Regions from separate parts of the Homo sapiens genome. Here region 2 is linked to region 1. Evidence: fine-mapped expression QTL. A gene starts in region 1. The other region holds a variant in brackets. All regions are shown on one strand. Distances are from middle to middle. Region 1 holds the start of VPS35 (VPS35 retromer complex component). Region 2 has its middle 17 kb from the start of C16orf87.

Region 1 (2,500 bases):
ATTTGTAAAACACTTAATCCTTTCTGGCATTAAGACATTTAAAGTGAAATCTGTTTCCAGGCTTACAGATTTACAGAAGCCTATCTACACAGAGTGAGTAAGGTAATTAAAGCGGACATACAGTATATACTCAAAAAATTTATTTACACAGTGCAGGCTATGTTAAACGCTAATAAAATGCAAGTGACAACTTGCCTTTGTGGGAACCAGACACAAAGATTCACATTTTGAGGAAGTTCAAGTTTACCGGCCAACAGCCACACCACGATTTGCTGCCGTCATAGACGGGCCCTAAGGAGAAGTACTGCTTCCAGCAAGTCAAATACTTGGATTTTATCAATGGCGAGACAAAAGAGGCAAGGTGCGCCCAATGCACAAATGCTAAAGTAAACAATCAGTCTCCTTTGCGACCGTCAGGATTAGAAGACAGCCTGAGTCCTTCCAGGAAATTCATGTAAGCAGGTCCCCAGAACTCGCTGACAAACACTGCAGCCGAAGGCGGGTATGAGGCCAAGAAAGGCCAAGGAATCACTGCGACCCCTCCAGGAGGGCGTGGGGACGGCCGAGCACAACTAGGCACAAAGGTAGAAACGCAACATCTGGGCGGGTCCCGGCGCCACCTCCGAGTCTCAGGGCCTCCACGCGCCCCGGGGGCCAGACGCTCAGACCTAGGACTACCGGTCCCCTCGTGGTAGGCAGGTGACCGATTCCACTTAAAGGAGGCCGCAGGCCTTCATGGACCCCAAAGCCTACATGCCAAGTCAACCCCACAGAGAGGCCGCCCCGTCTCTCAGCAACGGCCGCAGCCAAGAGCCGCCGCCCACCCCGGCCCGGATCAGCCTGCCCGCGGCCTTCCTCCTGCTGTCCCCTATCCCGCAGGCCAAATCGGGCTGGTCTTAATCCCGAACGGTCTGTGGGGCCCCTTCTCCACTCGCTGGAGTGCGGGGCGGTGGGAGAGAGCAGGGGCTACAAGGAGGGTCGACCCAGGTGCCACTGCCCCCTCAGCACTCACCATGGCGACTCCCCAGAGCCTGCAGCAAGCAGCACCCGCCCCGCGCGTAGCCTCCCGCGGTCATGTGACGCTGCGGCCCCTCCAAGCCCCGCCCTCTCTAGCCCCGCCCCCGGGCCCTACAGGCGGCTCATTGATTGGCCTACTTCTAGGAACCCGAGTCTCGCGTGCTTATTGGCCCTGTCACTTAACGCTAGATGGACGGACCTGAGCGCCAGCCAATCTCACCACAGCGTGCGAGAGTGGGCGGAGCAGTGCAGGGCAGTGGGGATCGCCCGGCGGCAGGCAGGAGACAACAGGAGGGAAAGGCAGTGTGTGATGAGTTTGTCAAGAAGGAATGGAAGGAGGGGGAGCCGACAAGTCCACGTTCACCGCATCTGCGTTGGCGATTGCGCTATTGATGCGCATGCGCAAAAGGAAGACCCTGATTGGTTTGTGGGACGGTCTCAACGTCCTGTCCTAACCAATCCAGATGCGCCGGGGGTGGGGCCTGGCTCTCACTGGCCGGTGCAGCCTTTGCGCGCGGGTTTCGTTGACCCGCGGCGTTCACGGGAATTGTTCGCTTTAGTGCCGGCGCCATGGGGTCGGAGCTGATCGGGCGCCTAGCCCCGCGCCTGGGCCTCGCCGAGCCCGACATGCTGAGGTGAGTTCGGCCGCGCAAGACCAGGGCTGGGCTTCCGCCTCGCGGCCCTGGGCCCTCAGGTGAGGCCCGCGCCCTTCCCAGGCGACGGGCGGCGGGGGAGTGACGGGGAGCGCTGGGGCCGGGCGGGGTTTAGGGCCTACTTCAAGAAAAACTTCTCGGCCGTGAGCTTGAATGAGATGGCAAGAAGGGCGATAGCAAACGGCGATGGCACACGTCCCTGGGAACAGCCAGCCCTGTCCGTGGGTAGAAAAATGAGCCAGGGAGAACTTTCCGTTCATTCCGCCAACGCCTACTGCAGTCGGGTTTATAGCGGGGAACCCGACAACGAGGCGCAGACCCCGCTGTCTGTAAGGGCGAGGACTGTGTAGACCTTAACCGGGCAATGCTCCTGAGCCACTGGGCTTGGGGTGGAGCGCGGCCTAGCGGCTGCCTTTAACACAAAGAAACAAACAAAACTCGGAAAAGCAGGCGCCGTTCCCGCTGAGGCCGGATTGATGGCAGATGCTAGGCGAGGAAAGATATGGCAAGAGCAGCCCAGGCAGGGGCGACAGCTCCTGTAAAAGCGTTGAGATGGGAAGCGGGATCCGGGGTTCGAAATAAAGCCATTGTAGCTAAAACGTGGAGCAGTCAGGCGAGGGAAGGCAAGGAAAACAGCACTTAAAAGATTTGAAGACAAACCTGCAGGACTCGGTAGTCATTTAGAACAGTGGTTCTCAAAATGTGGTTCCTGGACCAGCAACAGCCATATCATCTTGTCACTTGTTAGAAATACAAATTCTTGGGTCCCACCTCAAGCCTGCTGATCAGTAACTCGGCCTGGGACCCAGTAATTTGCAAGTCCCCAAGGT
Region 2 (3,020 bases), 160 kb after region 1:
GCACGGTCTCAGCTCACTGCAACCTCTGCCTCACAGGTTCAAGTGATTCTCCTGTCTCAACCTCCTGAGTAACTGGGATTACAGGTGCCTGCCACCACACCTGGATAATTATTGTATTTTTAGTAGAGACGGGGTTTCACCATGTTGGCCAGGCTGGTCTCGAACTCTTGACCTCAGGTGATCCACACCCCCCCCCGCCCCCGCCCCACGGCCTCTGGGATTACAGGCGTGAGCCGCCATGCCCGGCTTTTTTTTTTTTTTTTTTTTTGAGACTGGATTTCACTCTGTTGCCATGGCTGGAGTGCAGTGACATGATCTCAGCTCACTGCAGCCTTAATCTCCCAGGCTCAAGTGATCCTCCCACCTCAGCCCCCGCCCCAACCCCATCCCTCCAGCTGAGACCACAGGCCCGAGACACCATGCCCAGCTGATTTTTGTTTTTTGTTTGGTTGGCTGGGTTTTGGTAGAGATGGGCTCTCGCCATGTTGCCCAGACTGGTCTCGAACTCAAGCTCAAGCAATCCACGTGCCTAAGCCTCCCAAAGTGCTGGGATTACAGGCGCGTGGTTTAAACTACACTTCTTAAAGGGAGACACGTCAAAGAATGTGTGGACATCTTTTAAAACCACTACACTGGCTGAGGTCAGGTGGCCTCAGTTACTTAGAGCGTGGGCTTCCCCATAGGACTGCTTAAGTATCCTTTTAACATAGCAACTGTTCTTCTACAGGGCACATTTTCCATCAGAGAACGGGAGGGAATCCACAACATCTTTTATAACTGAACTTCAAAACTCACACTCTGTCATTTTTGCAATATCCTATTAGTTACACAGGTCACCCCAGTCAGTGTGGGAGGGGACTAAATAAGGGCATGTATCCCAGGAAGTAGGGATCGTCTTGGATGCCGGCTTTCATGGGTACTCAAATGAAACAATAATTCCATCAGTGCATGCTGGGGAGAGGTCCATAGAGGAAGTGACAGAGAGATGGGCCTTTGGGGTCCCACTGACCTGGAGAAAAATGAGAAGGATCTGTGTAGGTCATCTGTCCTTGACCTGAAGACAGAAAGAAAGAACCAGGTTGGGTGCCAAAGAGTCCACTTTTCACTGGTTTTTGATCCTGTTTCTAACTTTGCTCAAGATCTTTCATGCTTGCTATTAAAGTGACTGCAGGTGCTTCTAATCTCACACTATGCAATTAGACCTAGCAGGAGGTTCTTTAATAATAAGTACTTGATGAATGAACCAAAATGGATATTCAAAGCCACTTTTTGTTCTCTCTTGTAATTAGGACCTGAGCTTCCCCCAGAGATTGGGAGAAATGAGATGTAGCCTCCACCTCTACACCTGTCACTGTTAACATTCAGGACACAAAGCCCCTATCAATGAGCCTTTTAAGGCTTTTACATTTTTAGTGGGAGGAGAGGAACAGTAGGAGCCTTAGCAATCTTTAAAATATAAACATAACCACTTATCTTACAAAATAGATCCTAGGCCGGGTGTGGTGGCTCACACCTGTAATCCCAGCACTTTGGGAGGCCGAGGCAGGTGGATCACCTGAGGTCAGGAGTTTGAGACCAGCCTGGCCAACATGGTGAAACCC[C/T]GTCTCTACTAAAAATACAAAAATTAGCCAGGCATGCTGGTGCATGCCTGTAATCCCAGCTACTCGGGAGGCTGAGGCAGGAGAATCACTTGAACCTGGGAGGCAGAGGTTGCAGTGAGCCGAGATTGCGCCACTGCATGCCAGCCTGGGCGACAGAGCAAGACTCCATCTCAAAAAAAAAAAAGAAAAAGAAAATAGATCCTGAGTTATAAATTATATAAATTAGAGGGGTTTGTGTTCTTTCTTGTTTGTTTTTTCACCAGAAGCTTTGGGAATCATCACAATGCTACAAATGTGGTCATCGCTTGTTTATTCTTTTAATTTTTTTTCTACAAATTTTATATATTTGCACAAAGGAATCATCTTTAAATAACAACAGTAACAAAAATGAATACAAATAATTGTCCAGCTGGGAGCAGTGGGCTCACATCTGTAATCCTAACAGTTTGTGAGGCCAAGGCAGGAGAATTGCTTGAGCCCAGGAATTTGAGACCAGCCTGGGAAACATAATGAGACTTTGTCTCTACAAAATATAATAAAATTAGTCGGGCATGCACATCGAGGCTGCAGTGAGCTATGATCATGCCACTGCACTCCATTCTGGGCAACAGAGCAAGACTTCATCTCGAAAAAAAATAAAATAAATAAATAAATAAATAAATAAATAAATAAATAAATAAAACAAAACCCCCAAAACTGTCCAGATGAAGATAAAGAGTATGAGAAGCCTTATTTTTGGCTAGAAAGAGTGCTTTTCTTCTCCTCCTACAGAGCTAATAACACACTGGGTGGGCACATTCATTGTTGAAAAGCCACAGGCTCAAAGCAGCTCAGGAGGCAGCCTCCTTTGTAGCTGGGTAACTCTAGACAGCCCAAGCCAGCCACCACCCTCGCTGAGCACTGAACTCAGCCTGCTGCCTGCCCTGGGCACAGAGGAGTCTCCAGGAGTCCCACACCTTGCTTTGCCTCCTTTGCTTTTCCCTTTCATGCTATTTACTATTTATTGGGCATCTACTTTGCAGCTTGTCCTTTATATTACTTGTCGTTCTTTCTCTCAAACCCTGCAAAGTGGAATCATGAGCCCCATCTTACAGTTAAGGAACATGAAACTCAGAGAGTATATAAATCAGGAATCAGAAATTTTGTGAAATAAAAACTCAACTCAAAATGGCTTAAGCAAAAAGAGTATTTCCTGGCTCACATAACCAAAAGAGCCAAGAATCTGATGGGCTTCAGGCACAGCTGGATCTATGCACTCATGTGAGCCATCAGGGCCCCATTTCTCTCTCTGCCCCTTGTTTCTGTACCCCTTGCAGGTAGGGTCTTCCTTATTGGTGTTGGAGGGATGGCTGGAATAGCCAAATACACTACATTTCATTAAGTGTGGCAGCCATGAAAATGCTCCACTTGGATTTCTTT

The links. PIP is the estimated chance that this variant, and not a neighbour inherited with it, causes the effect. A credible set is the group of variants that fine-mapping cannot tell apart.
Region 2: its variant is the best candidate, but not a certain one, in a credible set for the expression of VPS35 in monocytes (TOPMed, PIP 0.55).

The regions. Positions count from the first base shown.
Region 1 is chr16:46,688,119-46,690,618 of GRCh38, forward strand. VPS35 (VPS35 retromer complex component) reads right to left here and starts at 1,060. Exons shown (of 17, transcript NM_018206.6): 1 at 1,013-1,060. The coding sequence starts at 1,015. It overlaps ORC6 (origin recognition complex subunit 6), which reads left to right and starts at 1,541. Exons shown (of 7, transcript NM_014321.4): 1 at 1,541-1,652. The coding sequence starts at 1,588. RefSeq lists enhancers at 531-1,228, 1,229-1,927, 2,165-2,244, 2,295-2,364 and silencers at 765-814, 965-1,204, 1,525-1,824.
Region 2 is chr16:46,846,707-46,849,726 of GRCh38, forward strand. No RefSeq gene overlaps it. Among named protein-coding and RNA genes, the nearest start is that of C16orf87, 17 kb to the left of the region's middle. The variant C/T (reference allele first, on the strand shown) is at 1,602.